7 linked regions of the Homo sapiens genome follow. The protein of the gene in region 5 binds, or shares a complex with, the protein of the main gene of each other region. Each region holds a gene or a part of one and is shown on either strand. Other genes may lie near its edges. The genes, in order: SART1, PRPF6, LSM7, SNRPD3, TXNL4A, SNRNP40 and SNRPD1.

Region 1 (3,500 bases), on a different chromosome or scaffold from region 5:
CTGAGACTACAGGCATACACCACCATGCCTGGTTGATCTTTGTGTTTTTTGTAGAGACTGTGCTTCACCTTATTGTCCAGGCTGGTCTCGAACTCCTGGGCTCAAGTGATCCTCCAGCCTCGGCCTCCCAAAGTGCTAGGATTATAGATGTGAGCAACCACCCGGCCCCTGGAAGAATTTTTTTTTTTTTTTTTTTTCGAGACGGGGTTTCACTCTTGCCCACTCTTTTGAGTGCAGTGGTGTGATCTTGGCAGCCTTGATCTCCCAAGCTCAAGCAGTACTCCCACCTCAGCCTCCCCAGTAGCTGGGACTATGGGCGTGTGTGACCACAATGTCTAATTTTTATGTTTTTTGTAGAGATGGGATTTGGGTATGTTGCCCAGGCTGGTCTCGATCTCCGGAACTCAAGCAGTCCACCCGCCTCAGAAGATTTTTTTAAAAAAATGAATGTAATATAAAATGAAAGAGGGGTGCAGAAGTGGACATAGTGACTCGAACCTTCACTGAGGAGTGAGGACTTTGCTGTCTGGGCTGCAGGGTTGAGGGAGAAGTTTTTTAAAGAGGGGAGATGGTAATCATTGTGTGTGGCTGGGCATCTGCGACAGGAGGGAAAGCAGAGGGTGCTGGTGCCCGTGTGGGGGTCGCTGGATTCAGTGCTGGCAGCATGAGTGAGTTCTCTTCCCATGTCACGGAACCTGCTTTCTTGGTGAAGCAGGAAGCGAGAAGCTGGGCTGTGGGAAGTCAAAAGCGTGGGCCACCTCACCACCCTGCGGGTTCTAGAAGTGCTGTCTAGAGTCCTGAAACCGGAGTTTGTCGGGGGAGGGGCAGGTGGCAGGAGGGAGCCTGGAGGAAGGAGTTTGAGGCTGAGGTAGTGTGTGAGGGGCTTTGGAGGGGGATTGGCACAGGCCTGGTCAGGAAGGCCCTGTAGGATGTTGGGTATTCATTCAAAGGGCATCCAAACCCATTGATGGGTTTGGAGCAGAAGAGTGACCCCAGTGAAAGAGGTGCAGAGTGGAGTTAGGCGGCAGATAGCAGCTGGGCCTGCATGGGCTGTGGGCGTGGCCTGTCTGGCTGCTGCCAGGGAGGACCCTTAGGTTCCTGGGTCTCAATGGCATCACCCCAGAAACTGCTGGGTTTGCCCACAGCCGCTCCCTCCCCCAGGTGGTGGAGATTGTGAAGAAGCTGGAGTCTCGCCAGCGGGGCTGGGAGGAGGATGAGGATCCCGAGCGGAAGGGGGCCATCGTGTTCAACGCCACGTCCGAGTTCTGCCGCACCTTGGGGGAGATCCCCACCTACGGGCTGGCTGGCAATCGCGAGGAGCAGGAGGAGCTCATGGTGCGTCTGGGGCGGCCCCGCCCTCTGCTTCCCTCGGCTGGGTGGGCTGGCTGGGGCCTGGGCCGACCCTGGTCTTTTGTGCCCCAGGACTTTGAACGGGATGAGGAGCGCTCAGCCAACGGTGGCTCCGAATCTGACGGGGAGGAGAACATCGGCTGGAGCACGGTGAACCTGGACGAGGAGAAGCAGCAGCAGGATGTGAGGGCCGCGCCGCTGGGGGGTGGGCGTTTGGGGGTGCTCAAGCTGGAGATGAGCACCGGGCTCGGTGTCCAGAGCCTCAGCCTCCTCATCCAGAGTGGGCTCTGCAGACCTCCCAGGGCGATCTGAGGAGTAAATGAGGAAATTAAATGTTGTGGAGGGCTGGTGCCTGGCAGGTGGTGACCAGTGGGTGGGGCTGAGAAGAGCCGGTATGGCCTGCTAACCACCCCCGCCACGTGTCCCGTAGTTCTCTGCTTCCTCCACCACCATCCTGGACGAGGAACCGATCGTGAATAGGGGGCTGGCAGCTGCCCTGCTCCTGTGTCAGAACAAAGGTAGGGAGCTCAGGGCAGCCATGACTTGGGTGGGCTTGGGTGCTGCTGCAGGTGCAGGCAGGGCCCCCTCCGGTCCCCTCTGCTGCCCCTTTCTCTCAGTCCCAATGCTGGAGCCAGCTGTCCGGCCCAGAGCCACTCCTTCCCCTCCACTGTGGCATCTGTCCGTCTGCTCTGCCTTTGAGGCTCCACACCTGCTTGGGGAAGGAGAGGGGAGTTGAAACTGTTCCAGCTGTGGCACAGAGAGCCCTGGTGTTAGGACCCCAGCTCTGCCATTTCCCTGGCCAGTGACCCTTGGCAAGGGGCTCATTTCTGCATCTTTGCTTTGCCTGTAGAACAGGCCTGATGGCTTTCCAGAGGCAAGGAAAGGGAGGTGCCCCCACAGGGCCTGCTCTGCCTTCTCAGGCGGCCCTGGAGCTGTGGCTCTCGAGGGGTTGGGAGTCTCACAACCCCTCCATCCCTAGGGCTGCTGGAGACCACAGTGCAGAAGGTGGCCCGGGTGAAGGCCCCCAACAAGTCGCTGCCCTCAGCCGTGTACTGCATCGAGGATAAGATGTGAGTGTGGTGGGGCCTGTGCAGGGCTGAGGGGCCTGTGCCAGCTTGGAGCTTCGGGACCACAGCAGGCGGCAGCTCCTCACACTAAGGCCTCCTCTGTCTCGGGCCAGGGCCATCGATGACAAGTACAGCCGGAGGGAGGAATACCGAGGCTTCACACAGGACTTCAAGGAGAAGGACGGCTACAAACCCGACGTTAAGATCGAATACGTGGATGAGACGGGCCGGAAACTCACACCCAAGGAGGTGAGCAGGGCCTTTTGCAGGCGGAGGCCCGGCCTGCCACAGGGAGGCCAAGCCCAGGGCCATGCAATGCCCCGGGCCATGCAATGCCCCAGGGTCCTGGCTCCACCAGCCTCTGGCTGGGGGCCTGGTGAATGCCACGGATGGGGAGGGGGCCCTCAGGGCTGAGGAAGGCTGTGCCTCAGTTTGTCTCTAGTGGGCACAGCAGTCTCTTTGCAAGCCTGGCAGGAGGGTCAGACAGGCACTCGGGACCTCTGCCCTCCTGTCCTCACCTGCGTGAGCCCTTCACTGGCTTTCCTGGCCCGCAGGGCCATTCCAGCGTCCAGGCCCTTCCAGCACTCTCGTAGGCCGCCCGACCGTCCTGCCCTACCACTCAGCTGCCCCCTTGCTCTCTGGGGTTTGTCTCCCTGCAGCCCCAGCCCCAGCCCCAGCGTCCAGGCCCAGCCCCTGCGTGGCAGGTCTCCAGGTTCCCCATGCTCTGCCCCCATGGCAGCGCATCCACTAGCCAAGCTGGTCTCCCGGCCTCTGCTGGGGCCCTGCAGGGTGCCAGCGTCTGTGCTCTTTTCCCATCCCCTTCCCACTGCACCCCAGGCCTGGCATTGGGGTCAATCAACACCCGCCCTGTTATTATACACCTTGTGGGCACAGGTGGCTCCGGCCCCACCCAGGGCCCTGCATCTCCTCTCATGCCCCGCGTCCCCAGGCTTTCCGGCAGCTGTCGCACCGCTTCCATGGCAAGGGCTCAGGCAAGATGAAGACAGAGCGGCGGATGAAGAAGCTGGACGAGGAGGCGGTGGGTGCCCTTGGGGATGTGGGGGGCCCTGTGCCTGCCGGGGC
Region 2 (3,500 bases), on a different chromosome or scaffold from region 5:
GGAGCGACGGCAGCCGAGGATCGGGGAAGCCCACCCTGCTGCCGGGCATCTTTACAATGACCAGGAAGAGGCAGACAGACTCTGGAAAAAGAGCCCATTAGGACCCCGAGGTTCAGCAATCCTGTGGGGGCCCCACTCACTTGGCCACGGCCAGGAGCACATGGGGGTCATGCTCACACTTCTTCAGGGCATCCACGCTCTTGGTCCTCCTCTGGGGCCTTGCCTCGAGGAAGATGGCCTCAGACCACAGGATACCTATAATTCAGAAACAAAGAACAAAGATTTGCACTCCAGCCTCTGGTTCCGGAAAGGTGCCCAGCCTACAGATTCTAACCCGGGACGTCCTCAGACCACGACAGGGGCCTCCCACACACGGCTCGCAGAACTTGTGCAAGGAGAACCACAAAGGATGAGCACTCTGGCCCACCCAAAACCATGGCAGCCCTGAGGGCACAGACTGGACACCCTGCAGAGTCTCACTCTGTCATTCAGGGTGGAGTGCAATGGCGCAATCTCAGCTCACTGCAACCTCCCACTCCCGGGCTCAAGCAATTCTCCTGCCTCAGCCTCCCGAGTAGCTGGGATTACAGGCGCCCGCCACCATGCCCAGCTCATTTTTGTATTTTAGTAGAGACGGGGTTTCACCATGTTGGCCAGGCTGGTCTCAAGCAATGGACTCCTGGACTCAAGCAATCCTCCCGCCTCAGTCTCTCAAAGTGCTGAGATTACAGGCATGAGCCACCACACCTGGCCAATTTCTTTTAAATTTTAAAAGAAAAAGAAATGATAACACTTCAGAAATGAAATCAAATTCTCCCATTTTGAGGCCAAGAATTTCATTAAGTTGTCTTAACGGCCGAGTATAGCTGAAACTTTTGACTGAAATGATTCACACAAACTACACATTTTAATAAAGTCCGTCTGAAGCCTGAGCCCCCACTCCCTCAGGAAGTGCCAGCCCTGCGGAGTCTGGGAAGCCAGGAAGCACCCCCTTACCGGAGTCAAGGCACCCCCTTACCGGAGTCAGGGCACCCCCTTACCGGAGTCGGGGCACCCCCTTACCGGAGTTGGGGCACTCCTGCAGCGCCTTGGCCATGAGTGTATTTGCGATGTTCTTCAGCCCCGCACGGTACTCCAGCCGCACGGACTCCAACCTGAGGAGACAGGCCCCCGGAGGTCCCACAGCCGTCTACCAACAGCACATATTCTGGTAGCTTCTGGGAAGCCTTGTCTGAAAGGGCTCTCCACCCAGTCACAGCAGCAAAAACTCCATTCCCTCCACAGCAGAGCTCATCCACCACAGAAACAAGGCGCTGGGGCCCACATCCCTGCCAGCCCCACTGGCAACCGCCCCAAGGCAAGACCTCAGATCCTGACGCTGTCCAGATGCAGGTGAAGGCATCCAGAACAAACAAGACCAGACTGGGAGAGCCAGGGCCGCACAAGGCACCCAGAAGCTGCCTGTCTGCGGCAGTGCCTGCACAGTGCTCCAGCCCCGTCACCCTGAGCTGGACGCAGCACCTCCATGAACAGAGCCTGCACCTAGCAGGCTCCTGTCCACCTCCAGGGCTCTCCACGCCACCTCCTCTGTGGAGCTGGCTCTCCGGGGTCCATCCTTCCCTCGTCCCAGCCATCATTAACCCCTCCCTCTCCCAGGCGCCCTCCATCAGAACACAAATTAAACTGCATCAAACCATCTACAGGCCTGTCACAGTACCTAGGCCGAACTCTCCTAAGGCAGGGACCGTGATTTTTCATGGCCAGCACCTACCGCCCCCCAAGCCCCTGAGCCTGGAAGCACTGCACGAGTGACTCCACACAAGCAGCTGGGTGACGGCGGCCCACCTGATGGGGAAGCTGTGCCCAGAGGCCAGGCTGCCCCCTCCAGGACTCACCACAGCCCAGGGTTCTTTGGGTTCTTCAGACGAGACTTTTCCAAAATGGCCCGTGCTCGAGTAAGCTGCCCAATCTTCTCCTCCAGCCGAGAGAGCAAAAGCCACAGGGGTGTGGAGTGGGGACACTTCTTCAACTGCAACCAACAAGTAAGAGAGCAGCTCAGGTGGTGTCTATGAAGAACTGGGACACAGCCATGCCCAGCTTCTCATCTGCAGTGGGTGACCGAGTCCCTCAGGGCTGCCATGTCCATGGAAAAACACCCCTCACACTCTGCATTTGTGGGTGTACAGGTGTGCGGTGGTGCTGTGGACCTGTGCACACAGGTCTGTACGTACCAGCCTTTACTGCAGGTGTGCCACACTCTGCACTTCTGAGCAGTGTGTGCAGCTTCATATAAGGAAAAGCACAGAACTCAGCGAGGGGACCAGGGTTTGGGTCCTGAGTCTGCAGCTCCATCAGCTGTAACCCCCAGCCCTCCACATCTCCTCAGAGGCGAAGGGCAATGACCCTGCACCAGGGGGCTCAGTTTTGTGAATGCCGGGTCAGCTGCAGCCCCAGGGTGCAGGCAGAGACGTACCCCCTGGTTATAGGCTTCCCGCGCCTTCTCCATCATCTCCTTCTGCTCCTCGATCTGCCCCTTCATCATCCACAGCTTGGGGAAGTCCTCATAGTGCCGCAGGGCCTCCTCGCACAGATCTTGGGCTGCCCTGATGTTGTCTTGCACCCACTCCAGCTTCACAGACTTCATGAACACCTGTGGGGCAGACATGCACTGTCACGCAGGGCATCAGCTCCAGGGTACGTGCTTCATGGTACACTCATCCTCAACACTGTTACCTGCAGTACTGTGTGTACTTTTGTAAGCTTTTCATAGCCTGTTTGTGTACACAAAAGGTGGGGATAAATATATGTTTTTGTTTTGTTTTGTTTTTTTTTGAGATAGAGTCTCGCTCTGTCACCCAGGCTGGAGTGCAGTGGCACGATCTCGGCTCACTGCAAGCTCCACCTGCTGGGTTCACACCATTCTCCTGCCTCAGCCTCCCAAGTAGCTGGAACTACAGGTGCAAGCCACCACACCCAGCTAATTTTGTATTTTTAGCAGAGTTGGTCAGGCTGGTGTCGAACTCCTGATCTCACAATCTACCTGCCTTGGCCTCCCAAAGTGCTGGGATTACAGGCGTGAGCCACCACACCCGGCCGTATGAACATGTTTGTTGTTGTTGTTGTTGCTGAGACAGTTTCCCTCTTGCTGCCCAGGCTGGAGTGCAGTGGCGCGATCTCAGCTCACCGCAACCTCCACCCCCGGGGTTCAAGCGATTCTCCTGCCTCAGCCTCCCGAGCAGCTGGGATTACAGGCACGCACCACCACGCCCGGCTAATTTTGTATTTTTAGTAGAGACGGGGTTTCTCCATGTTGGTCAGGCTGGTCTCAAACTCCCACCCTCAGGTGATCTGTCCGCCTTGGCCTCCCAAAGTGCTGAGATTACAGGCGTGAGCCACCGCGCCCGGCCACCACGCCCGGCCACATGAATGTTTTAGTCACATCACAAAGATGAGTGTGCTGTGGTCTCGTTTGCCTGCCGTCATCTCACTCCCATCACCAC
Region 3 (2,283 bases), on a different chromosome or scaffold from region 5:
AGACAGGCAGGCAGAATAATGCCCGGGGTGCCTGCTTCCCGAGATTGGTGGTGCCTGCTTCCCGAGATTGGTGGTGCCTGCTTCCTGAGATTGGCGTGGGCGTGCAGAGGGCAGCACCGTAAGGGCTGTGGGTTGGTGTCTGGAGGAAGCACCTGAAAGATGACAGGGGTAAGAAGGAGAGCAGGGAGGGGGTGGCTGCGGGACGCCCCTCAGTGAGCGCAGAGGTGGAGCTGCTGCTGGGCCTCGGCTGCAGGAGCCTGCAGGGCAGTGGAGGGGAGTCCCAGGCAGAGAGGGTGGGCTGGCCTCTGCTGGGGACACACAGCTCCCCCTTCACCCTTCTCAGTGTCACCAGACACTGCGGAGCAGGATCAGATGGCAGAGATCACCACCGGGTCAGAGAGCCCTAACCTAAGTTGGCAAGTTGTGGCCCAAGGCGGCGAAGCTTGAGGGGTGGGGCAGGCAGCGTGGAGAGAGAAGCCACAGAGACCGTCTCAGCCCCCGAAGCCTTTGCACCTGGGTCTCAGAGCATCTCTGTTGCCTGCTCCCCGCAAGCCCTAAGCAGCAGGGCTGGGATTTGTTCTTTTGTATTCCGTGAACTCACTGAGGGACTCAGCACAGGTCAGGCAGCGCAGTCATCACCGCTGTCAGAGCGGAGCACTCTGTCTCCCCTACAGGAAGCCCTGTCCCCATCAGCCATCACTGCCTGTCCCATCCCTGGCCCTGGCACCCACGCATCCCTTCCCTGTCTTTGTGGATTGGCCTGTCCTGGACATTTCATAGAAATGGGATCTCACGGTGCGCAGCCTTCTGTGTCTGGCGTCTCTCACTGAGCGTGACGTCCTCAGGTGCGTCCTCAGGCGCATCCGCGCTGTGGCCTGCGCCAGCCTCGCTCCTCTTCCTGGCTGGTGGTCCCACCGCGTACACGTGCCGCCGCCTGTTTTGCTGCTGCTTTTGAGCTGAGAATTGTTTTTATGACTTTTAAATAGCTAGAAAGGGATCAAAACAAGACTGTCTCACGATGTGGAAATTACATGAAATTCACAGTTCAGTGCCTGTGAGTAGAGCTGACCGGCCGCAGTTCAGCCACACATGGACTCATTACCGAAGCTGCCTCCACCCAGGCAGCCCGAGCCAGCAGCTGTGACCGGCACCCTGTGGCCCACACGGCCAGAAGTGTTTGCCATCTGGCCCCCCGCAGACGTGGTCTGCTGCCTGTGGTGGAGATCACTCTGGAGGCGGCTGTCATCGGCCACTCCCGGGAGCCCTCTCCTACCCTCAGTCCTCCATCCCTGGAGCAGTTAGCCCCATACCTGGGCCATGCTGGGGCGGGCCCTGCGCCCAGGACGGATCTCATGCCTTCTCTTTTCTCTCCCCCGGTGATTTCTCCAAGCCAGTGGAATCCTGAAGGGCTTCGACCCACTCCTCAACCTTGTGCTGGACGGCACCATTGAGTACATGCGAGGTGAGTGGGGTGGCGGCCGAGGCAGGCAGCGGGACGAGGGGGATAGTGGGGTGAGGGGGGCAGCGGGACGAGGGGGGCAGTGGGACGAGGGGGGCAGCCGTGGGGCTCCCTGCTGGCTCTTCTTCTCTCAAACCCACAAAACCTCTGAGTTACCAACGTGAAGCCTCGTGGCGGCCGATGGACGGGCTTGAGCGCTCACTGGTCCTAGACGTCCTCACAAAGCAGGAAACCCCATTGTTGTGGGGCCTGGAGAGACGGGAGCTGCCAGCTCACCCACTGGTCTCTACACACTGACGGGGCGCCCGGCACAGTTAGAGGACAACCTTTTTAAATGTTTTATTATTTTAATTTTTGTTAAATTGGTGACGTGAGAGGCCAGGCACAATGGCTCACACCTATAATCCCAGCGCTTTGGGAGGCCAAGGCAGGAGGATCTCTTGAGGTCAGGAGTTTGAGACCAGCCTGACCAACATGGTGAAACCCCGTCTCCGCTAAAAATGCAAAAAAATTGCTGGGTGTGGTGGCGCATGCCTGTAATCCCAGCTGCTCGGGAGGCTGACGCAGGAGAATCGCTTGAACCTGGGAGGCGGAGGTTGCAGTGAGCCGAGATGGTGCAACTGCACTCCAGCCTGAGTAACAGAGTGAGACTCCGTCTCAAAAAAAAGAGATAAGCTGAGGTCTCACTGTGTTGCCCGGGCTGGTCTCGAACTCCTGGGCTCAAGCCATCCTCCTGCTTCAGCCTCCCACAGTGCTGGGGTTCCAGGCGTGAGCTGTGGCGCCCAGCGGAGAGCAGCCTTGCTGTGGGGTAGTGAGCGTGCCGT
Region 4 (3,500 bases), on a different chromosome or scaffold from region 5:
GTTGTGAGAGCAGAGGAAAAACACAGTTTGACTTTTTTCCTCACACACATATAAAACATGTACAGCAGCTAAAGATACCAATGAAGAATCCAGTGCCTTCCTTGGCTGCAAACCTTTTTTACCAACACTAAGACAGTTTCCAAGGGCCACAATTACTTTGTTGTCTAATCAACATGACAGAACTTTCATGAACCTAAATATAAAACCAAATTAGGCTAACCAAGAAGCAAGACCAGACTAGGGGACTGCGAAAAGGACAGTCCCACTTTTGGAATGTACTAAAAGGTGGCTTTATTTCTGAAAACGGAGCTCCACTATCAGACCTCCCTAAGTACATGCTGGTGTCCATCCATAAGACCCAGTCTCGCTAGGAAATGCTGCCCTCACACTCGAGTCAGCTCATCTGCTCCGGGCTGTGTCTGCTCGGCAAACTAGACAAGGGCAAGCGATCCCACACCTCTCACACAGAACTTCTAGAAAAGATGGGCCTCTCCAGGTGCGGTGGCTCACACTGGTAATCCCAGCATTTCAGGGGGCCGAGGCAGGTGGATCATGTGAGGTCAGGACTTCAAGACCAGCCTGACCAACATGGTGAAATCCCATCTCTACTAAAAATACAAAAATAAATAAATAAAATAAAAATAAGCCGGGCGCAGTGGCTCACGCCTGTAATCCCAGCACTTTGGGAGGCTGAGGCAGGTGGATCACAAGGTCATGAGTTCAAGACCAGCCTAGCCAAGGTGGTGAAACCCCGTTTCTACTAAAAATACAAAAAGTAGCCCGGCGCAGTGGCGGGTGCCTGTAATCCCAGCTACTTAGGAGTCTGAGGCAGAGAACTGCTTGAACCCGGGAGGCGGAGGTTGCAGTGAGCCGAGATCACGCCACTGCACTCCAGCCTGGGCGACAGAGCGAGACTCCATCTCAAAAAAATAAAAAAATTAAAAAAAATTAAAAATAAAATAAAAATAAAAATAAATTAAAAATAAAAAAATTAGCTAGGCAGGGCAGTGCGCACTGTAATCTCAGCTACTTGAAAGGCTGAGGCAGGAGAATTGCTTGAACCTGGGAGGCAGAGGTTGCAGTGAGCTGAGATCACACCATCGCACTCCAGCCTGGGTGACAAAGCGAGACTCTGTCTCAAAAAAATAAAATAATGGCCTCACAGGATCACTCCACGCTGCAAGGGGAAGGGGTGGCAGTGGGTGGTGGGTGTGGAGAGAGCAGAGGTCAAACCCTCTCTGTCTCCAGGCAGTAATAGGGCCCCTTTCTACAAGACACAAGACAAACCTATATTTTAAAACCTGTGCATGAAAAGCACCTACCTTGGGCCTTGAGAATAGCAGCTTTTCCTCGGCCAGCCCCTGAGCCTTGGTTTTTATTTTTCATGCTCTTTAACATGGGTGCGTTCTTCAGCATGTCAGGCAAAATCAGAAAGCGGATTTTGCTGCCACGGATGTATACCTGCTCCAGCTGTGCCACTCGGCCATCTCTGTATGTGACTGTGATGTTGGACATCTGGAAGGAAATCACCAGCTAATAAGTTAACGGTCAACAGCACCAGCGGTGGGGAGGGCCTTGACTGGTGGGAGGGGGAAGTCCAGAAAAGCAGACTGACATTGTGACAAAGCTGGTGAATTACCCAGCAATCATCGGTACTAACTGTGTACACCAGGGACTGCACTGAGCACTTTACCTAAACAGTCCTCACAACACCTTCAGCGTGGGTATGAGTGCTCCCCCCCTTTTTTTTTTGAGATGGAGTTTCACTCTTGTTGCCCAGGCTGAAGTGCAATGGTGCAATCTCGGCTAACCGTGACCTCTGCCTCCCGGGTTCAAGCGATTCTCCTGCCTCAGCCTCCTGAGTAGCTGGGATTACAGGCATGCGCCACCATGCCCGGCTAATTTTGTATTTTTAGTAGAGGTGGGGTTTCACCAGGTTGGACAGGCTGGTCTCGAACTCCTGACCTCAGGTGATCTGCCCGCTTCAGCCTCCCAAAGTGTTGGGATTACAGGTGTGAGCCACTGCGCCCAGCCGAGTGCTCCCATCTTTACATGTTAAAAAAACCAAAGCAGTTATCCCAGGTCAAACAGCTGGAATGCAGGGAACTCCAGATTCGAACCAGCTGGCCTAGCTTCAGAGCCCTGGCTGTGCTGCACTGCCTGCTGAGCAAAGATGTGAAGAGCTCTTGAAGGTGCTAAACCCTAACGAAAACAGCTTCAAACTGCTGGTCCAAACTGTCTTCCCCTGCACTGCCTGGCACTCAGATTTCAAAGGCACCATGAAGGTCACAAGTATATACCAGATGTGGTTCTGACCCTCCAGAGTGCATACTCTAGAAGGTGAGACAGAACCCTCTAGGTTGAGTGACTAGGGACTGAGAAATGGAGGTGGTACCACAAGGCCTGTAAAAAGGGCCTGAAATTACTGGAGGGTTATGAGGCAAGAGCTTGCACAAGGAAAAGAGCAGGCACTTGGGCAGGAGCCTACAGGATGTGAGGACCAGAGCAGTCGAATAATGACACTGGACGGGGTCGTTACTTCAGATAAAGGAGTCAGTCAAGTTTGTCGATAGAGGAAAGATCAATAGGGTTAAGGCAGCACTCAGGAAAGATAAATGTGGCAACAAGGATAGACTGCAGGATGGACAAATGGGGAGCCTGAAGGTGAGACCAGCTTGGCATGGGAGGGTGATACCAATCTGCCAGCATCAACCTCAACAAGCACCACATTTACAGAAAAAGCAGCTTATTGTATGAACCTTCTGAAGAGAGAGAACTATAATTTATTTAGAATGGGTCAGCCCTTATTGTAGAAAGATGTGCTGTCTCTGCAGATTTCTGTCTGGCTAGCTGCCATCTTATACTCATTCATTCTTTTCCTCAAGTGCTAACTGGCCACCCAGCCTCTGCTTGAACACTCAGAAAAGAACAACTATGGGCCAGGTGTGGTGGCTCATGTCTGTAATATCAACACTTTGGGAGGTCAAGGTGGGAGGATCACTTGAGCCCAGGAGTTTGAGACCAGCCTGGGCAACACAGTGAGACCTCATCTCTACAAAAATTAGCTGGGTGTGGTGGCATGTGCCTGTAGTCCAGCTACTCGGGAAGCTGAGGTGAAAGGATCACTTGGTTCTGGGAGGTCGAGGCTGCAGGGAGCTGTGATGGAGCCACTGCACCCTAGCCTGGGCCACAGAGCAAGATCCTCTCAAAAATAAAACAAACAAAACTATGCTCTGGGGCCGCCCCTGTTGTATATGAGCAGTTTCTAGAGGAATGGTTTCTAGAGCTTCTACCCACTATCCCTGTTCTACCTTCAGGGGCAACAGGGCTCCAGTTTCTCATAAACCTTCTGCTCCAGGCTCCTCACTCCCAGCCTGTTATTAAATTTTCATCCAGTTCCCAAGTCCTTACCAATCCTTTTCTTCCCCTGAAGAATACCATAACCTCTAGTGCCACAAATGAACGCCAGGTTTATGGTCAGACTACCCAAGACAGAAACT
Region 5 (3,500 bases):
AAGCAATCTGCCTGTCTCAGCCTTCCAAAGTGCTGGGATTACAGGCTTGAGACACCTGCACCCGGCCCATGTTTAACTTTTTGACGACCTGCCTGCCTGTGTTACCACTTTGCCACCAGCAGTGTGTGAGGGCTCCAATTTCTCCACATCCTTGCAAACGCTTGTTGCGATCTTTTTGTATCTAGCCGAACTTGTAGGTGTGAAGTGGCGTCTCACTGTGGTTTTGATTTGCACCTTCCTTAACAAGCAGTGATGCTGAGTGTCTCTTCGTGTGCTTCCTGGCCGTCTGTTTCACCTGCTCTGGAGAAATAGCAGGAGTGTAATACTGAGTGTCTGTTACATGCCAGGTACTCGAGGTCACATACACGTTCTCCCTAGCCCCTCATTCCGATACGCTGTTGCACTCTCCTACTTTATACATAGAAAAATCAGCACTTGGGAGATTAAACTGCAGATTTGCATTTGAATTTTAAATCCATTTAAAAAGCACACACTCATTTGTACTGTATGTAAAAAATGTGCTTCATTCTGTAAGTACCCTCCCGTTTCCACAACAGCAATCAATCTCCCGACAGCAGCGAGCCCTGTGCACCACTCCTGTGCCCGGCAGGCACCACGTGCTTCTGCGTCCACATCTGTGTGCAGGGCAGACACTATTATCCGCCTTTACCAAGGAGGAAACAAAGCTCAGAGAAGGTACCCTGCCCAAGGTCACTTGGTGGGGCAGAGCCTGGGTCTGAGGTCAGAGGGCCCACGGTGTGCTCAAGTGCCCCCATCCCTGCCCTTCCTCACTTTCACTTCAGAGCTCGAGTGTGCTGAGACGGGACACGAAGATCCCAACCAACCATCCACACTGCTAGGATGACAGAGGGCAAGAGAAACCTGAGACTGTAATAAGGACATTTTCTTTTCTTTTTTTGAGACGGAGTCTTGCTCTGTTGCCCAGGCTGGAGTGCAGTGGTGTGATCTCGGCTCACTGAAACCTCCACCTCCCGGGTTCAAGCAATTCTCCTGCCTCAGCCTTCCAAGTAGCTGGGATTACAGGCACGCGCCACCATGCCCAGCTAATTTTTGTATTTTTAGTAGAGACGGGATTTCACCATGTTGGCCAGGCTGGTCTCGAACACCTGACTTCGTGATCTGCCCACCTCGGCCTCCCAAAGTGCTGGGATTACAGGTGTGAGCCACCGTGCCTGGCCAATAAGGAAATTTTCTAACTATATGAACTGAAGGGCCATGGCTTCTACAGAAAATATGTTTACATCAAATACAATCTTGGGAAGAATAAAAAATAGCTCTCCTATTCCTTACAGGGAAGGCTATAAACAATATTTTATTGTACTGTTTTTATAACCAGAGTAAACCTTTGGATTCTGTCATGGATTGAATTGTGTAACCGCAAAATTTATATATTGAAGTCCTAACCCCCAGCACCTCAGACTGTGACTTTTGTGGACATAAGATCCTTGCAAATGTAATTAGTTAAGATTAGGCCATGCTGGAGCAGGGTGGGCCCCAATCCAACACAGCTGGTGTCACTACGAAAAGGGGAAATTTTGGACACCAGCACCCACACAGGGAGGACACAGGTGAAGGCAGAGATGGGGCGAAGTATCCACACACCAAGGAACTGAAAATACCACCAGCAGCCCCCAGAAGCCAGGGACAGGCCTGAGCAGATTCCCCTCACGGCCTCAGCAGTGACCCCCCACCCGCGACACCCTGATCTCAGACCCCCGCCTGCAAAGCTGTGAGAGCACACATCTCTGTTAAAGCCCAGCTCGCGGCATATGCTGTCACCGCAGCCCCAGCAAACCAACCCAGTATGCAAAACGCACAGGCTCACAGGATAAACACCTTCGTTTTACTCCAAGGGTAAGAATTAACTTTGACTAGGAAAATCAGTAATCTATTCATTAAGTTTCCTGAGAACAAACAAGTAGGCCTGCTCCTCTCACCACGTGCTTGTTTATTTCGGTGAGTTAAGACCATGTTATCAATTCCATCTCAGAGGTGCTCCAGCCCTGGAGCTTCCTGTATTTTCCAAAGGCTTTAAATAGCTTAAAACGTTTCCATACAAAAAGGGCTCCACGACATTTATCCGCGCAGACTGAGGGCGCCTCAGTAGCGGTACTTGGTGGAGTAGTCCTTGGGGGACACCACCAGGCCGCGGCCTTTGCGGGCCCCGCGGTACACCGTCTCGATGATGTCCACCATCTCCTGCTTGTCCTCCATGGCCCAGTTAATCTTGTTGTTGTTGCCAGTCCCCAAGTCAATCATGATGTGCTTGTTCCTGCAACGAGAAACAAGGGCATCCATTCTCATAGAAGTCTCTTTAAAAAAGAATTCCTTGAAAACAATGCCGTATTTTTCCCACTGTGACAAGCTCTTGTTAACATCACTGAAGAACGCATAAAATCGAGAGTGTATGCCATGATGCAGGAGAATACAGGAAGCAGCTAAATGTGTTTTTAAAGATGCAATGCATTGTCCACCATGCTCTTTCCTGCATTTTTCTGTATTTATTTAGGACAGTTATTCTAAGGGGAAATTAAAAGGTCAAAGGAGGGCAGGCGCAGTGGCTCATGCCTGTAATCCCAACTCTATGGGAGGCTGAGGCAGGAGGATCACTTGAGGCCCGGAGTCCGAGATCAACATGGATAACAAAATGAGACCCCCATCTAATTTGTACTAATTTACCTGATAAAAGCAATGTGTAAGTTTTTCACAGTGCTCTTATGAGCAATGACATAAATTGTATTAAAAGCCCTTCAACTATGAAATGAAGATGACATTTTGCATGTTTATGGTTAGGGAAGTAGATAATTCTTTACTTATCTTTCAAGAGACTAGTTCTTTTCCTCATGAATACTCATGTGCACTTTACAAGATAAGGATATTAACCCTTTGTTGTACTGGCATAAATTTATCCTGGTTTGTTGAAGTTTCTTTTTGAGATGGGGTCTCACTGTCATCTAGGCTAGGGCATAGTGGCAAAATCAACCTCCTGGCCCAAATGATCCTCCCACCTCAGCCCTCTAAGTAACTGGGACCACAGGCACGAGCCACCACACCCAGATAAATTTCTAGTTTTTTGTAAAGATGGGGTGTCCCCATGTTGGCCAGGCTGGTCTCAAACTCATGGCCTCAAGTGATCCTCCCACCTCGGCCTCCCAAAGTGCTGGGATTACAAACGTGAGCCACTGTGCCGGCCTGATTATTTTTCTTAGAGATGCGAGCTATGTTGCTAAGGCCGGACTCAAACCCCTAGCTCCAGTCCCACCCCGGCCTGCAGAGTGGCTGGGCTGCAGGCATACCCCACCTAAAGACTGTTTTTTAACGTTCACTTCCACAAGATCATGCATTTGGCTTCCACCTACTATTCCGTAGAAAGTATTCCCCGTGAAGTCTCTGGTTCAGGAGAGGCAAATCTGATCAGGGTCTGGAGCCCACCTCTGGCCGCCCTCTCATTCTCCATGCTGCAGGCAGGCCCTACATGC
Region 6 (3,500 bases), on a different chromosome or scaffold from region 5:
AGAGGCCTCCTGGGCACCCAGCTGAAATTAGTATCATGTCAATCAATGGCAGATGCTGTTTCCTCGGTGGGCAAAGTCCAACTTGACATACTGCTACCTGTTAAGGCTCTTTTCTTTTTCAAGCAGGAAAACACATCTAAATCCCAATAACTGGGGCTAGCTGAGGGGGCAGGAAGGAAAAATGTCACACACAATGTTGGTAATTTGCAACAGAATGCAGTTGGGTGTGATACTAATTTCAAAAAGATATTTTGCAAGATTTCTCTGCCAGCTTAGTCACATCCAGCAAAGCTTCAATGTGACAAACTAAATACCAGGAACTACTGTGACAATGAACTTATAAAAGCCAAACTTACATCGCCCTTTCCTAATTTCCCTCATATGGGCACCTGATAGTCTAAGACTGGACAAGGTCAGATATATATAAAATATATAAAAGGTCAAATAAATCAAAAAAGCACTGTACCATACCAAAAATCAGAAAAAGTAAACATTGATTCTATCTCTGTTACATATTTGGGTGATGTCAGGTAAACAGTGAGATTGTTTGTGTCTTGGTTTTTCTGTTCTGTAAAATGAAGAGAAAATTATCTGTCTTCTTTTTAAAATAATATTATTGACTGATATGATTGAGATGGAGTTTCGCTCTTGTTGCCTAGCCTGGAGTGCAGTGGCGTGATCTCGGCTCACTGCAACCTCCGCCTCCCAGATTCAAGTGATTCTCCTGCCTCAGCCTCCCAAGTAGCTGGGATTACAGGTGCCCACCACCACACCTGGCTAATTTTTGTATTTTTAGTAGAGATGGGGTTTCACCACATTGGCCAGGCTGGTCTCAAACTCCTGACCTCAGGTGATCTACCCTGCCCAGCCAATAACACTATTTTAAAGATCCAATGAGATGATATATGTGCAAAGGTTCTAAAATTTGTAGGCAACAAACAAAAATAAAGAATTTGTAATTGTATTATGCAGCCACAAGAAATTATTCTATTATTTTTTCCTTATTTTAGTATCAATCTAGGAAACCTCATTGTTCCTCATAAAGAACGCTAGAATTAGCTAGGCATGGTACTTGGGAGGCTTGCCTGGGCCCAGGAGTTTGAGACCAGCCTGGGCAACACAGCAAGATCCTGTCTTATCAAAAAAATTAAGGAAAAAATATTTTTTTAATGCTAGATTAAATGTGTATAAACATCTATTGTAAGCAGTAGCTATAGCCGTTGTAACTGAAGCTATACCTATAGTGGAATTTCAGTGATGTCATTTTATTTGAGTATGAAAAAAGTATTATCAATCCTTGGAGTCAGACAGGCATAAAAAGGCAAAGCTATGCGTGAAAGTTTGCCATTGAGAATATAGTTAAAAGGTAAAGATGTCCATTAATTCAACAAATATTTATTAAGTACCCAATGAATGTCAGGTATTGTTTTTGTTACAAAATGTCAGGGAATACATTTTAGTTCCTGACAAGCCTATAATTTTGTATACCAGGGCCATTTCCAAACTCCCTCAACATTAAGCATATAATCCAGCAAGTCACCTTACTTTTTTTCTGTAGTAACCCATCCTCCCACCCTACAACTCAAAAACAAGTAAAGAGAAAGAGCAAGAGTGTGTTCGTGTAAATCCAGAATGTTTTAATGAAGACCTCTTCCCACACCAATGCTTTCAGAGTGGGGAGGGAAGACAGACTGGCAGGAAAGAGCAGAAGAGATCATCCAAGCTTGGTGCTCTCTGAAAACGCACAAGAACTGCCTTGAATAGACTTCTAGATTCACATCTTTTTCATTAAACTCATCACCTAGAGTTTCTAATATCCTGTTGGATACACAGCATACCAGAGCTGAGATGGGTCTTAAAGGTAAAGTCCAATCTTCTTATCAATGTAGAAACTGATGCCTAGAGAGAAGAAATGCTGTGTGCAAAGTTGTTCAGGGACAAGACAGAGATCTGAGACTACAGTCCTAGATTCTTGACTATCTCACCTAAAGCTTTCCCCATTACAACACATTCTAATCGTCTGATGGAATCTGTGAGCAATCTTTGACTTTTTCCTTGGATCCTGGGAGAGATTTCCTTTCCAAAGTTACCTGTATTGTCCATTGCATTGGACAAAAGATAAGAGCCTTCAGAACTTAAACTCAGGCCAGTCACTGAATCTGCATGGCCTCTCATGGTGTAGGTTAGCTTGTTCTGGCGCAGGTCCCAGACCTGCAAAAACAGAAAGGTGCCCCCAGAAATCAAATTAATAAAAGCAGAGAAAGAGAATGACACAAGAGACAAGAGTCAATTGCCCAGAGACACTGATATTACTCTACTATAAAACACAGGATTTCTGTCAAAGAGAAAAACACCTTTTTTTAATTTTCATTTTTTTTTTGAGACAGCGTCTCACTCTGTTGCCCAGTGCAGTGGCACTATCATGGCTCGCTGTAGCCTTGACTTCCCGGGCTCAGGTGATTCTCCCATCTAAGCCTCCCCAGTAGCTGGGACTACAGGAGCATGCTACTATACCCAGCTAATTTTTCTGAAGAGACAGGTTTCACCATGTTGCCCAGGCTAGTCTTGAACTCCCGAGCTCAAGCAATCCTCCCACCTCATCCTCTCAGTATTTGGATTAACACGCATGAGCCACTATGCCTGGCCAATCTCTGTCTTTCTAAAAAGGTAGCTCAGGCTACCACGTTTGACTAGATAAATATAAACGAATGCATATCAAATGTTAAGATAAAGTTTTACACACAAAAAAATAGAATTCAGAAAGGTTATTTTCAAATCATAGCAAAGAAAAACTATTATAGAAAAAAACTAAAAATGGCTATGATTCTTAGCCATTAAAAATTATTATAAATACATAAAACGAACATGTCATTTAAAAAAGGCATTATGATTACATGTTTGTGTAACAATATGAAAAATACAGATGCTTAAAATTTTTCTTTTAATGTAACAATATGTGACAATAAATGTATATATATGTACATGTATGGATATGTACATGCACATACACTATGGAAAAGCACATTTATTAAAATAAAAATAAATTACAGGTTCACTATTGCTTGTATAGGAAACGTAAGATACAGAAAATAACCTAAACGTCAAGCAGGAAAAATAGGTGGTTTATTAAATTATGGTTCATAAGCACATTGCAAAACTGAATTCTCATACAGGAGATAGCATGACAGAGTAGAAAGAGTGGTGACTTAGGGTAAGAATAAACTGTTCCTTGCCACTTAGAGTTATGTGTCATTGGGTCACTAATTCTTTCTGGGCCTGTTTCCTGGTCTGTAAGATTAGGGATAACAATAGCTACTTCTTACGGCTGTTGTAAGGATTATAAGAATGCTTAGCATATGCCGGGCACAAGACAGGTCCTCAATAATGTGTAGCTATTGTTAAGCAGTTCCTAAAAATAACTCAGAAGACCAAATGTAAAAATATTTACATAATAAGCTATTAAGCAAAAAAGGAAAATACAAAACAGTATTTATCTTTAC
Region 7 (2,354 bases), about 58 Mb from region 5:
TAGCCAGGCGTGGTGGTGGGTGCCTGTAGTCCCAGCTACTCGGGAGGCTGAGGCAGGAGAATGGCATGAACCCGGGAGGTGGAGCTTGCAGTGGACTGAGATTGCACCACTACACTCCAGCCTGGGTGACAGAGCAAGACTACGTCTCAAAAAAAAAAAATTTATCTTCCTTTTCAAAAGTACTCCTATTGGCTGGGCGCAGTGGCTCACACCTGTAATCTCAGCACTTTGGAAGCCTGAGGCAGGCAGATCGCTTGAGGTCTGGCATTAGAGACCAGCCTGGCCAAAATGGTGAAACCCTGTCTCTACTAAAAATACAAAGATTAGCTGGGTGTGGTGGTGCATGCCTGTAATCCCAGCTACTCGGGAGGCTGAGGCACGAGAATTGCTTGAACCCGGGACACAGAGGTTGCAGTGAGCCAAGATCGCACCACTGTACTCCAGCCTTGATGAAGGAGTGAGACTGTCTCAAAAAAAAAGAAAAGAAAAAAAAACGAAAAGAAAGTACTCCTCTTTATTTCACAGATCCACAAGAATTTCACATTAATAAAGGCCAGTATCAGATATACTTTTAATGCCTTTAGAAAATGTCTGCTGTTGGTTTATTATGACAGAGATTCTTCTTGTTATGGAGTTATTTTCTAGGTTAAGTCTTCAGGAACAAGAACTGTATGTTATTAAATGTTATATGTATGATATCTATTATAGGTAATACATGAATTGTTTGCTGACTACATTAATCTATTTCAAAATACTAAGTTATGCTCACATAATTATGATAGATTAAAAGAAACTGATATTTCATTTTCTATTCCTTCACTTTGGGTTTTCTATCTATATTCATAATACATTTCTTTAAAAACTAATGTTCGGCCGGACGCGGTGGCTCACGCCTGTAATCCCAGCACTTTGGGAGGCCGAGGCGGGCGAATCACGAGGTCAGGAGATTCAGACCATCCTGGCTAACACAGTGAAACCCCGTCTCTACTAAAAGTACAAAACATTAGCCGGGCATAGTGGTGGGCACCTGTAGTCTCAGCTACTCAGGAGGCTGAGGCAGGAGAATGGCGTGAACCCGGGAGGCAGAGTTTGCAGTGAGCCGAGATTGCACCACTGCACTCCAGCCTGGGTGACAGAGCTAGACTCTGTCTCAAAAAAAAAAAAAGAAAAGAAAAGAAAAGAAAAGAAAAGAAAAAAAACTAAAGTTCATATGTAACATCTCATTAAATATCAGATGTGTACAAAATGCTGCAGTCCTAAGATCCCATCTGCCTTTTAGGGGGTGGTGAAGAGGGGTCAAGAGAAGCATGTTAAACTCTAGTCTGTTTTCTATTCATACTATAATGCTTCCTTTATAGCAAATGATGGTAATCAGTTCAAATAGCTTTTTCTTCACCCAATTTTAGCCCTTTCACATGGAAATGAAATAATGACCTCTAGTGGAATAAACTCAATCTAGTACCCACTGTGATTTATTATTACATTTAAACTGTTACTAGACTGGCTTCACACTGCAAACATCCTAGACACAAAAACTCTCAAAACAAATTTTTTTTTTTTTTTTGAAACAGTCTCGCTCTGTCACTCAGGCTGAAGTGCAGTGGTGTGATCTCAGCTCACTGCAACCTCTGCCTCCAGGGTTCAAGTGATTCTCCTGCCTAAGCCTCCTGAGTAACTGAGATTACAGGCACCCGCCACCACACCAAGCTAATTTTTGTATTTTCAGTAGACAGGGTTTCACCATGTTACCCAGGCTGGTCTCGAACTCCTGACCTCAAGTGATTCGCCCATCTCGGCCTCCCAAAGTGCTGAGGTCACAGGCATGAGCCACCATGCCAGGACAAAACGTAATTTTAGATCTCTTATGCTAAGTGGCCATTTTCATTTAAATTTTAAATTTAAGAGCCAGGTCTCACTAGGTTACCCAGGCTGCTTGCAATCATAGCACGCTACAGCTTCAAATTCCCAGGCTATAGCGATCCTCTTGCCTTAGCCTCCCCAGTAGCAGGGACTACAAGTGTGCACCACGGCACTAAGCTCCAATTTTTATTTGTTATCTGCTTCTGTCTATAAGCTCCACGAGGACAGGAGCCAACTGTTTATTTCCTACTCTTGCAGGGTTTTGTTTGACCCCTTCAACAAATCTCTCCACTTGCTGCATTACAGGGGTCTCTTGCCTTTTGCCTTCTACTTGGATACAAGCAATAGGAGCACCAACAGGTCAGAAGATGGAAAAGAATGAAATCCAGTTATTTATTCCCCCAGCTTATTAATTAATGAAAGGTATAGGCCGGGGACGCACGGTGGCTCACGCCTGTAATCCCAGCACATTGGGAGGCCTCGTGCAGATCATG

What was found.
Region 1: TXNL4A (region 5) and SART1 share a complex: the UniProt entries of both Homo sapiens proteins name them as parts of the U4/U6-U5 tri-snRNP complex.
Region 2: TXNL4A (region 5) and PRPF6 share a complex: the UniProt entries of both Homo sapiens proteins name them as parts of the U4/U6-U5 tri-snRNP complex.
Region 3: TXNL4A (region 5) and LSM7 share a complex: the UniProt entries of both Homo sapiens proteins name them as parts of the precatalytic spliceosome.
Region 4: TXNL4A (region 5) and SNRPD3 share a complex: the UniProt entries of both Homo sapiens proteins name them as parts of the U4/U6-U5 tri-snRNP complex.
Region 6: TXNL4A (region 5) and SNRNP40 share a complex: the UniProt entries of both Homo sapiens proteins name them as parts of the U4/U6-U5 tri-snRNP complex.
Region 7: TXNL4A (region 5) and SNRPD1 share a complex: the UniProt entries of both Homo sapiens proteins name them as parts of the U4/U6-U5 tri-snRNP complex.

Annotation. Positions count from the first base shown.
Region 1 is NC_000011.10:65,975,234-65,978,733, forward strand, and holds part of SART1 (U4/U6.U5 tri-snRNP-associated protein 1), read left to right. Parts: intron 1-1,145; coding exon of another isoform or gene 1,146-1,161; coding exon 1,162-1,335; intron 1,336-1,422; coding exon 1,423-1,533; intron 1,534-1,780; coding exon 1,781-1,868; intron 1,869-2,329; coding exon 2,330-2,420; intron 2,421-2,530; coding exon 2,531-2,666; intron 2,667-3,366; coding exon 3,367-3,456; intron 3,457-3,500. UniProt on the Homo sapiens protein: Plays a role in mRNA splicing as a component of the U4/U6-U5 tri-snRNP, one of the building blocks of the spliceosome. May also bind to DNA.
Region 2 is NC_000020.11:64,026,132-64,029,631, reverse strand, and holds part of PRPF6 (pre-mRNA-processing factor 6), read right to left. Parts: intron 2,651-3,500; coding exon 2,474-2,650; intron 2,030-2,473; coding exon 1,896-2,029; intron 1,155-1,895; coding exon 1,063-1,154; intron 256-1,062; coding exon 141-255; exon of another isoform or gene 1-140. UniProt on the Homo sapiens protein: Involved in pre-mRNA splicing as component of the U4/U6-U5 tri-snRNP complex, one of the building blocks of the spliceosome.
Region 3 is NC_000019.10:2,323,304-2,325,586, reverse strand, and holds part of LSM7 (U6 snRNA-associated Sm-like protein LSm7), read left to right. Parts: intron 1-1,390; coding exon 1,391-1,462; intron 1,463-2,283. UniProt on the Homo sapiens protein: Plays a role in pre-mRNA splicing as component of the U4/U6-U5 tri-snRNP complex that is involved in spliceosome assembly, and as component of the precatalytic spliceosome (spliceosome B complex).
Region 4 is NC_000022.11:24,565,999-24,569,498, reverse strand, and holds part of SNRPD3 (small nuclear ribonucleoprotein Sm D3), read right to left. Parts: intron 1,516-3,500; coding exon 1,323-1,515; intron 1-1,322. UniProt on the Homo sapiens protein: Plays a role in pre-mRNA splicing as a core component of the spliceosomal U1, U2, U4 and U5 small nuclear ribonucleoproteins (snRNPs), the building blocks of the spliceosome.
Region 5 is NC_000018.10:79,971,564-79,975,063, forward strand, and holds part of TXNL4A (thioredoxin-like protein 4A), read right to left. Parts: intron 2,294-3,500; coding exon 2,122-2,293; 3' UTR 1-2,121. UniProt on the Homo sapiens protein: Plays a role in pre-mRNA splicing as component of the U5 snRNP and U4/U6-U5 tri-snRNP complexes that are involved in spliceosome assembly, and as component of the precatalytic spliceosome (spliceosome B complex).
Region 6 is NC_000001.11:31,269,289-31,272,788, forward strand, and holds part of SNRNP40 (U5 small nuclear ribonucleoprotein 40 kDa protein), read right to left. Parts: intron 2,212-3,500; coding exon 2,091-2,211; intron 1-2,090. UniProt on the Homo sapiens protein: Required for pre-mRNA splicing as component of the activated spliceosome. Component of the U5 small nuclear ribonucleoprotein (snRNP) complex and the U4/U6-U5 tri-snRNP complex, building blocks of the spliceosome.
Region 7 is NC_000018.10:21,631,667-21,634,020, reverse strand, and holds the end of SNRPD1 (small nuclear ribonucleoprotein Sm D1), read right to left. Parts: 3' UTR 501-2,354; downstream 1-500. UniProt on the Homo sapiens protein: Plays a role in pre-mRNA splicing as a core component of the spliceosomal U1, U2, U4 and U5 small nuclear ribonucleoproteins (snRNPs), the building blocks of the spliceosome.